Regions from separate parts of the Homo sapiens genome. Here all the other regions are reported to be linked to region 1. Evidence: microRNA targets listed by miRTarBase, many of them from high-throughput screens and not tested one by one. Region 1 holds a microRNA gene; each other region holds the end of a gene's coding sequence.
What was found. The annotated mature microRNA hsa-miR-1249-5p reads AGGAGGGAGGAGAUGGGCCAAGUU and lies in region 1 at 2,025-2,048, shown strand. An mRNA with a match to its seed (bases 2 to 7 or 8) in the 3' UTR can be bound and repressed. Matches are read on the target gene's strand: a 7mer-m8 pairs with bases 2 to 8, a 7mer-A1 pairs with bases 2 to 7 and ends in A, and an 8mer does both.

Region 1 (3,250 bases):
CCCTGTGGGACTGAAGAGGACTCCAGCCCAGCTTCGCCCATGCACGAGCGGGTAAGGGCTGCACAGCTGGGGGCGGGGGCTCCCATCCGTCAAGTTCACTTTCCACCGTCTCCCCCGTGCTCACGGCCCCCTGGGGACATAGGTGTTGTCATCCCCAACCACCAGTGCGCAGGCCGAGGTGCCGAGCGTGCGGAGGCCCGGACCACCCAGCCCTTCTCTTTGCCTAGCGGTTTGTAGGAGGCACTGCCGCAGGGGAGGCGTTCCTGCCTTGCAGACCTGGAGGGCTGTGCCTGGCCAAGGTCACACCGCAGGCTGGTGCTGGGCCAGAGCTCTTTCTGCCTCCCTGAGATGCCACAAAGCCAGGCTGAGTCCACAGAGCCAGTGGGCAGAAGAGACTGGCTGGGGACCCAGGCCCGGCCCTGGCGCCTGCCTGGGTGGACCTGCTGGGTGAGCGTGGGCACGTGGCCGGCCTTCCCCGGTGAGTCAGATGGGGATGATGGTGACTGAGGGTCAGCCAGCGCATGCAGAGGCCTAGGCCACCCAGCTCTTTGCCCCGCGGTTTGTAGGAGGTTCTGCTGCAGGAGAGGCGTTCCTGCCTCGCACAGCCGGAAACCAGACTTGCCAGCTTGCCCCAGGTCACAAGGTCTCTTGGGATAGCACTGGGCTTGGGGCCCTGCTCTGCCTAGGCCACTCTCCTTCCCCAGGGCGGGAGGCTGAGGTCAGCAGCAGCTTTGTTCCCAGAAGCCTTTGGTGGGGCACAGGCAGGAGAAGGTCTCCAGCCCACTGGCTGCTTTGCTCTACCTGGTTCTTCCAGAGGGACTGCCCAGAGCTGTAGTTCTTGGAAGAGTACAGGTGTGCTGGGCAGGGGGGTGCCCTTGGCACAGGTCCAGGGGCAGTCTTGCCCAGCCATTGTCCAGGAGAGACGCCACCCACAGCCAGAATCCTGCTCTGCTGCTCTCATAACCTTGGGTGTGTCTCTTTTCCTCTCCAAGCCTCAGTTTTCTCATCTAGAAACAGGGCACGAGGATACCTGCTCCTTCAGTATTTGGGAGGCTTTGAGGAATCCGGGGCTTGGCCCTCAGGAGGATTCCCAGGTGGCAGCTGCAGTAGTTGCTGTTGACCTACTTGGAAAGCAGAGGCGTGGGAATGTAAACGATGCATTACCGCAGGCATGCCTGAGATGAGGGAGTGTGCGTTTGTTATACTTTTAGTTCGAGAAAGATCTGAATCATGCATATCTCCGGGTGGTCAGATGTTGGTTTTCTTTCTCTTCTGTATATCTTTTTTTGGGGGGGAGGTATCTTCTGCAATGAATGTGTTTTGCAAGCCAAAGACAGCAAGTGCTATTTTTTGCAAAGATGGGTGAGAATTCCAGGCAGGGGCCTCTCTTGTCTTTGGAATGAGGTGGTTTATATTTCTGAGTTTGTTTCCGAGATAAAGGGCCTGGTTCTTCTCCCTGGTCCTAAATTATGCCCTGGGACTCTGACAAAATGTGTGTGTGAAAGTCCTTACGAAGATGTGGCCCGAGCTCTGGGCTGGACAAACCCGGGTGCCACCTCCAGCCACAGCCTGAGGGCTGAGTGACTACAGGTCACTAGACCTGCCTGAGCCTTGGTTTTCCCATCTGTCCAGCGGGAGTGGCTGTGAGGGGTGTGAAAGTCCCTGGTGCCTTAGCAGCTGGGCAGCCCTGGGATTCAGGAGGAGGGATGTGCTAGGGTCACACAGGGTCAGCAGCAGGGCTGGCCCCTGGGGACTGCCGCCTGTGCGCCTGCTATTACCTGTCTCCTTCTCTGGCGGGGTCGTCTGGAGCCAGTGCGTGACACATGCTGACTCTGTGTATTGTGGTTGCTGCTGTTTGTTTCTTTTATCTTTTAAAAACCTTCCCCGGCTTGTGGGAACACCGTCTGGAGCCCAGCAGCTGCCAGGACTTTGGTGGATGTCGGAGCCGTGACGAGGAGGCTGACGGGGCTCCCGAAGTCTCAGTCCCAGCTCATCCTGCTCCTCAGATTATTGTTGGCATGGGGAGGAGGGAGGAGATGGGCCAAGTTCCCTCTGGCTGGAACGCCCTTCCCCCCCTTCTTCACCTGGCGAACTCCTACTCGTCCTTCAAGACCCAGCTCCAGCGGCATCTCCTCCAGGAAGCCTTCCCTGATTTCCCAGGCTGTGGATCCCTTTTGCCTCTGTGCTTCATGTATCCTGTGCTTCTCTTTCTCTGTCTCCACAGCCAGCATGCTGTCTATGGTTGTCACTCTCTGAGTCTGTCACCCCAGCAGACTGTGAGCTCCTTGAGGGCAGGGACCTGCAATGTGCCTGTCTGTCCTTAGTGCTGTGCCTGCCTGGCCCTGAGTGGGTGTGAATGTTTGGTGAACAGAACCAAACGTGATTAGAAGTGGGGAGAAGACAGAGGCATAGAGCTACTTAGCACAGTATTTCCTGTGAAGGGTGCTGGGAATGAGAGGGATGGGGCCACGTCAGCCCTGAGAAGTAGGATGAGGAGCGTGGCCCTGGGGGACAGAAGACAGGGCTGCTGCCGTCCTGCTTGGTGACCACAGGCAAGCCAGGGTCTCGGTCCCTGCCTTAGTTTCCCCATGTGTCAGATGGGCTGACGCTAGCCCCTGTCTCACGGAGCTGGAGGCTCAGAGGGTCTGTGTGTGGGGCCAGTGCTCACTCAGCGTCAGCAGCTGTTGTTACTTTGTGCTTGAACACCCCCTACCCACTGTTTGAGGCCCAGAGGAGGGGGGTCTTTCTGCCATTTGCGGCAGCAGCCTGGCCCCTCCTCGGGTAGCACTGGTGGCCAGGTGTCCTGCTGGCCCCTGGGCTGGAACGCATCTTCCAGTCTCTAGGCCCCACCTAGCACGGGCCGGCTGGGCCTGGGTCCTCCTGGGCCAGCGGCCTCTTCCCTGGGAGCTGTGTCAGGTTGTTTGAGGGTGGGATAGGAGGGGCGTTGGGACCCCCGGGGAGGGGGCTGTTCTGCTACTCTGGTGACTTTGGCTGCTTGTTCCCAGGTGACCTCCTTCAGCACACCCCCCACCCCAGAACGGAACAACCGGCCTGCCTTCTTCTCCCCATCCCTCAAGAGGAAGGTGCCCCGGAACCGGATCGCTGAGATGAAGAAGTCGCACTCGGCCAACGACAGCGAGGAGTTCTTCCGGGAGGACGACGGTGGAGGTGACCCCCCACTCCGTGCCCTAGGGTCCCCGTGCCCTTCAGTCTCTTCTTGATCCAGACCAGTCATTCATTCATTTATTCA
Region 2 (3,250 bases), not on the chromosome of region 1:
CCAAGGCCTAAAACCTTGGTTACCACATATTTGCTAATACCTGTGTGGGGCCAGGCTGCTTGCTTGGTACAGGCTTGTATTTCAATTGCTTCTAATCCTCAGTCCAGTACAATGGGACCTTTTTGCTTTTTCCCAAGTCCTTTTAGTAATCTGATCAATTGGTTGCCCCAGGGGCCCTTAATCAGTGTTTGTAGATGGATGAACCCAAAAGATGTAGTTAATAAAATTCTAAAAGCAAAAATCTTGCTGTAGACAGCACTCCTTTGCCAGAGCTAGAACCTGGTGATGAAGTGCACATTCTGCCTAATGTACTTAATAAACCACTTAATAGTTGTGGGACAGGAACTAGCTGTACAAGTTTCAGACAGATTCTTGGAGAATAAAGAATACAACCTCTAAGGAACTTGTTTTTCTCTGAGCATGAGATGTATAGGTGGGAGCTAAAGGCAAAAAGACAATTGAGAAAGAATCAAAGGGGAACGGTGGTGAGAAAGCTGGGATTGAATTGACATTTCAATAGAAAGAGGCATACTCAGATGTCCCTACATGGATTGAGGGCTGTCTTTGAGGGACTGCTGTGGGGTAGTTTGGGGAACTCAGGCCCCAGAAGGAAGATTACTTTGGCTCAGAAATGTTCTGTAAGGTTCCAAAATGGCGAACTTCAGCCCTTCTCCCTGCTGAGGGTGGTGAGAACCTCAAATACAGGGTGAGGCCCCAGGGATCTAGAGGGAAAGTGTTTGCCCTGCCTCATGCTGCAATGCAGCAGTCTGAGACATGAACTTGGGAATTATGGCACGAGGCCTCCCCCAAGATAGATATTAATGTGTGTGTGTGTGTTTGTGTGTCTATGTATATGTGTGTGTATGTGTGTGTGTGTGTGTTGAGGAGGGAGACAGTGTGGAGGAGCTAAAAGGGGAGAAGGGTTTGATTTTGTCCCTAAAGTGCTAGGTAGATGTGCCAACACAATTTTGAGAGGCTTACCTGACCAAAAATGCAGACATGAAAACCCTACCCCATTCACTGTCCTCTCTCCTCTTCTCTATAATCAAGTTGAGCTAGGAACATGTCTGGTAGTCCCATGAATGTGGAATCTGGCTCCCCAGACTACAAAAGGGAAGCAAGAAATGCTCCAGATCAGTCCTTGTGAAATGGAGAATCAATCCTCTGGTGGGATGGGATAGGATATGCCCCATCTGTAGGGTATTAGCTCTTGTGGACATCACATTTCAGGCCCCTGCTGCTGTTGTGGTATAGGAACAGAGTCCAGAGAGAACAACTGGGCAAGGCTGCCAGGGGCCCAAGAGACCTAAGGAGAGAGCAAACCAAGTTAGAAACATGTGGGGAAATCTCACTAGCACCCTTCTTTCTCTACCCCTCCAAATATCATAGGTTAAGCCAATGGTTGAGGATGTAATAGCAGAAAGACATTACCTAGATAGGGATATGACAATTCTACCCTATTCTACATTGTTGAAACCATTTATCCTGAAGATAGGTTTAGTTCTAAGCTCCACATACTTTAGAAGAACCTAAAGTGGTATTCTCCAGAGAGGTGGTGTTGTCTTCAAGCCTCTGCAGGGCTATCTTAAAGCAGAGGAAACTGATGAGGTCTGTCTGGCACGAGGAACAGAGCCAGGATGGATAGGCGGGTACTACAGGGAAAGCTCTTTCTTACATTGAGCTCAAACCCACCAGTCACAATTGTGTATACTGTAATATACATTGAGAAGTAGTCAGCCCTCTGCCACCTAAAGTATGTGAGCAAGGACTACACAAACTCTTAGTGGGGATATTATAAAATGGACCCAAACCTTGGAAGAAGAACTGGACTAGATAACCTTGAAGGTACCTAAGTTGATTGATTTGACATCAGTTATAACTTTCAAATTTGATATCAGTTATGACTTTCAAATATACATTTGTTCACGTTTTCTTAGGTTGGATGCAGGGAGCAGGGAAGTCATTGGGAGAACTGAAAATGTATTAACTGAAGAAATACGGAAGTGGGCACTGCAAGATATTTGGTTAGTTGAAAACTGGGAATCTACCTACTCTCCTACCTCATGCTACATAAGCTTTGAGAAAGTAACATTGGCTATCAAATGGTTGCAATGGTGGAGTTGAACCAACTCTAAAATGTAGCCCCCAAACCTGGGTTCTTGCACAGTTCTAGCCCACTAATTTGCCCTGTGACTTTGAGAAACTAACTTTCCCTCTCTGTGTCTCAGTTCCTGCCTCTGTAAAATGTAAAATGAAGTGACATACACACAAGGTTTGTATAGTTATTAGGGAATGAAGGTTGATTTGAAATGTAGGGTTTCCAGATGACAAGGCTTGTATATCTTTTTCTACTGTGCTATGCTGCTTGCACACATAAAGGGAGATACCTGAATATGACCATTAGATAGTGGGGCCCTGAGAGAGCTTACGAAAGACCAGAATGGAGAGACTGGTATCATGACAACCTTGCCAGTTCCCTGACAATTGTAGACCCAGAAGTGTGATATCTGTCTGGCTTAAAAGTTTAGCATCACCACTGTTGCCCCTCCACCCAAAGTGTTCCTAGCTTGCTGCTGTTCCTCCACTCCTAGTGAATAATACTATTCCAAAAGAGAATTCCTTGAGGTTAGTCCTTAATTTCTGTTTTGCTTTTTTTGTTTTTTTCTGATCCACCTTTCCAGCTCACCTCATTAGAGTTAAGGGCTGGGAACTTCAAAGGGCACATTGAGCTCCAGCCTGTCTCCAGTGCTTTCGACTGTGTTTCCCCCCAAGGTCTCAGCTCCAGTATAGGAGGCAGAGCTGGAAAACTTTTGCAGGTCCAGCTCTGTGCATTCGATGGGGCTGTGGACCCAGTGGGAGTGGCTCTCTGAGGTGCAGGAGGCCATGGTAAAGGACTCCTGTGTGGGGAAGCCACTAGTCGAGCTGCAGTCGTCCTCGAGGATAGGGTTAAGTGGCTGGGTCTGAAAGATGTTCTCACTCACTTGGGACTCAGCACTGGTCTCCTTGCTGGGTGGCACGGGGAAGAGAGATTCCTCCTTTGCTGTTTTATCAGCCTCAAACTGCAGCAAACCTCCTGCAACTCGAAGCAGAAAGCCACTGGGTTACCCAAAAGCAGGGGCTCTTCTCAGCTGGGCACTGGGTACTGAGTACAAGACAGGTAAAGGTCTGGGAGCTGATTCTTTCCTTCCTCTCCCTGGGGTCTAGAGCACCTAGCACCAGGCTGAGGTGACACAGTTGAGAAACATACTTA
Region 3 (3,250 bases), not on the chromosome of region 1:
TTGCGTGCTTATTACATATGAGGTACTCTTCTAAGAGCATTAACTCATTAATTTTCACAACCCTATGAGACAGATCCAATTATCCCAATTTTACATTTGAAAAACCTGAGGCACAGAGAGATGAAGTAACTTGTCCAAGGACCCACAGCTAGGTGGCAGAGCCAAGATAGAAAAACCCAAGCAGGCCAGGTTGTGGTGGCTCATGCCTGTAATCCCAGCACTTTGGGAGGCTGAGGCAGGAGGATTGCTTGAGGCCAGGAGTTCAAGACGAACCTGGTCAACATAGCTCACTTTATATTTACTTTTTATAATTAAATAAATAAATAAATAAAGGAAGACACCAAGCAGCCTGGCTCCAGGGCCCATGCTCTAACTACTATACTATACTGCTTCTGCAACAAAAAAGAGAATGATCTTTTCTAATTCCTACAAAGCTTTATCCTCCTATCAAGTATGCCAATTTACATTCTTTAAGCAGACACATGGACCCAGGTTCATCTTAATGTAAAACCAAGGATCAACTTTAGTCTCATCCAAAACACATCAGCTCTCTTAAACACACCAAACGTTACCCCCTTTAAAACATAAAATACACTGAGATCGCTGTTCAAGCATCATACTTTCTAACAACAGGAAATGTTTGCAGAATTAAGGCCCTGGACACCTTCTTCAGTTTAAGCAGTCAGCACTTGATGGATCTTTTGTAGCTGTAACAGAATTTAAGTAGCTACTTTCTGAAAGAAAAAGTCAGTTTAACAAGACCCTAATTTGAGAATGTTTAATTCTATAAATACATTATTATGGCGACAGAGCATAAAGTACAAAGTTCCCTATGCTTAAGGAACCACTAATAGATTTGCCGAAATATCAAGGCACGAGGCACTGGCCTATTCAGCTAAAACAGAAGTTCGTATAATTGGGAGTTAAGGCCAAGACACCATTCATATGCCTCTTATGCTCGAAGGCTATGACCTTTAAACCTTTGTCTTTCTTCAATCTCTCCCATCTTTTAAATACCCTATATACTCGTAAGTTGTTAGAAACCAGTACCATCTTTTAAAGTCCTGGCAACTGTACCGTATTTTAATAAACACCATTCCCTAATTGATTTGCTTCTGAAATAGATTACTGAATACCTTTCAAACATTGAACATGAAGAGACAAAAAACTCTCTTAATGGCAGTGATTTTAGTAAAATCGATGGATGTTTTGGCTATCATCACCTAAGTGTCTACCATGACCAAACACTGATGTCACCATTTAAGTAACAAAACAAATCAGGAAGTTTTGCTAAATGAGAACTAAATTTGCCTAGCCCTCCTTCCTTATCTGGTTTGATGCAAACAATTTCCCTCTCAGCAATATATTTACTTTCTAGATGTAAGAGAAAAACTGAAAATTTACATCCTGACATCCACTGTGATGCAGAGGTGGACCTGACAATTTGGACAAGTCAGTCTCTTTCATCTTCCTATGTCAGTTCGAATGGGCTTTTAAGGTAAACTACTATCTAAACTTTTTTTTTTTCAATTACAAAGCTAAAAGATGACCCGTATTAATAGCTTAACAGGAAACAAAGTTTTGCTGAAAAACATTTTTGTGGATAAGCGGGGCTTCAAAAGTTGGTTAAATTACTTAGTATTAGACACCCACATATTGGGTGACAAATTGGTCTAAACTGACCTTAGAAAAGGCAGTTGTAGTGGCAGGTTTCTAGAACCTGACAGGTCGCCGATATTAGTATCTAATAGCAGTCCTCTGATCTAGGAGGAAAAATTAAACGTGTCTCTCTTGATACTTAGTGGAGTCAGTAAACAATGTCCTCAGTCTGCGAATGACTGATACTAAGAACCACACCTTCAATTTTCTAGCTCAGGCCCTGGTTTCCCTCCTCCCACTTCCCTCCCAACCCAGGCAGGTTATTACAGACAAGCAGGCAGTTACGTTGCTTCAAAATATTTAATACGTGTTAGACACGTAGAAGTTACATTTTTATACAAAAATCAATACAACGAAGGAGAAAATACTGTACAAAAACCTTATCAGCTCCCCCAACCTTTATACAACAAAGACTGGAGTCACCATATCTACAAAACCATAAGGTCTTTCCACTTCGGGCTTCTGTCTGTAAACTCTCATTAAACACTTTTTAAAAGCACTGTGTAGTACTTCTGACCTAGAGCTTTTAAAAATATATCTTTTCTCTATAAACTCCATTATTTCCAAGCTTGAACTCTTCTGTGAAGTTCGTCAAGCTTTTTCTCCCCTGCGGGGAAGCAAAGGACCGTTAATACGCCCCTTTCCTAGAGTAATCACAGGATATAAACGTTTCTTCATTGGGAGAGAAAGGTGGGGAGGGACAGAAGGAATCCAAGTCTGTGCTCTTGGCTAAATCCCTCTCGTCTTAGGAAATCCTGTGCGGAAACGCCACTCCTGGCCCTGAAGCGGGTCTAGCTTTCCGGTGAGGGGTAGGTGTAAAGTCCCTCCCTCCCCGGAGAACGAATGGGGAACTCCCCGGCCCAAACCTTTTAGCCGCTTCCTTCTCCACGCAGCCGGCAGAGGAAAGTCCCTGTCTGCCCCCAATCTCTTAAACCCTGGGGAAGGAGTGGTGCATTCCAGAAGAGCAAAATAGTCTTAATGCCACAAGACAAACTTACATACACAGACATACACAAACACAAAAGTTAACGATCGTCCTCTTCCAATGAGCCTCAAGCTCCCAGGTCTCCAGATAAGCCAGATGCGCCCGGGGGCAGTTTGCGATGCCCAGAGGCAACCAGTCTGCCCAACGCGCTCAGCGCCCGCGGTCTCTGGGCGTCCTCGCAGCCGGGAAGGGCCTGGCCCTCACTTCGGGGACGCCCGCTGCTCCACCTCCTCCCCGCAGGGGGGCCAAGGGCTCAGAAGGCCACGATGGCTGTGCTCCAGGGGTTCATGTCTCTCAGCACCGGCTTATCGCAGCAGATCTGCCCGGGCTCGGCGGCTTCCGGACCGCTCTCCTCTCCCTCCTCTTCCTCTCTGCCGCCCCCGGGGCTTTTCCGTAGGAGTCCCGAGAAACTGGAACCGAAGATGCTGATGAGGTTAGCCACGTTCCCGGTCTCCATCTCCTCCGCGTCGTCGTCCTCTCCTCCACTCGGCGGCTGCTCTAAGTTCCGGCGGGGCTTCTTGAGCGGGGTCGAGCCGGGCGCCGGGCAGCCCGCTGGGCCGCCGCCCACCCCCGCCGCGCAGCGCTTCCTGGGGCACACCGCGGGCG

Region 2: miRTarBase lists EDA2R as a target of hsa-miR-1249-5p. Seed matches in the 3' UTR shown: 7mer-m8 at 885-891.
Region 3: the mRNA of IER5 is a reported target of hsa-miR-1249-5p. Seed matches in the 3' UTR shown: 7mer-m8 at 2,354-2,360.

The regions. Positions count from the first base shown.
Region 1 is chr22:45,199,791-45,203,040 of GRCh38, reverse strand. MIR1249 (microRNA 1249) reads left to right here and starts at 2,022; the gene lies at 2,022-2,087. KIAA0930 reads left to right here. Exons shown (of 10, transcript NM_001009880.2): 7 at 1-51; 8 at 3,006-3,168. RefSeq lists a cis regulatory region at 642 and an enhancer at 570-714.
Region 2 is chrX:66,596,788-66,600,037 of GRCh38, forward strand. It overlaps EDA2R (ectodysplasin A2 receptor), which reads right to left. Exons shown (of 7, transcript NM_021783.5): 6 at 2,687-3,073; 7 at 1-1,306. The coding sequence ends at 2,697. Among named protein-coding and RNA genes, the nearest start is that of EDA2R, 41 kb to the right of the region's middle.
Region 3 is chr1:181,089,534-181,092,783 of GRCh38, reverse strand. IER5 (immediate early response 5) reads right to left here. Exons shown (of 1, transcript NM_016545.5): 1 at 1-3,250. The coding sequence ends at 2,898. Among named protein-coding and RNA genes, the nearest start is that of IER5, 2.5 kb to the right of the region's middle. RefSeq lists silencers at 2,277-2,571, 3,146-3,250 and an enhancer at 2,586-2,755.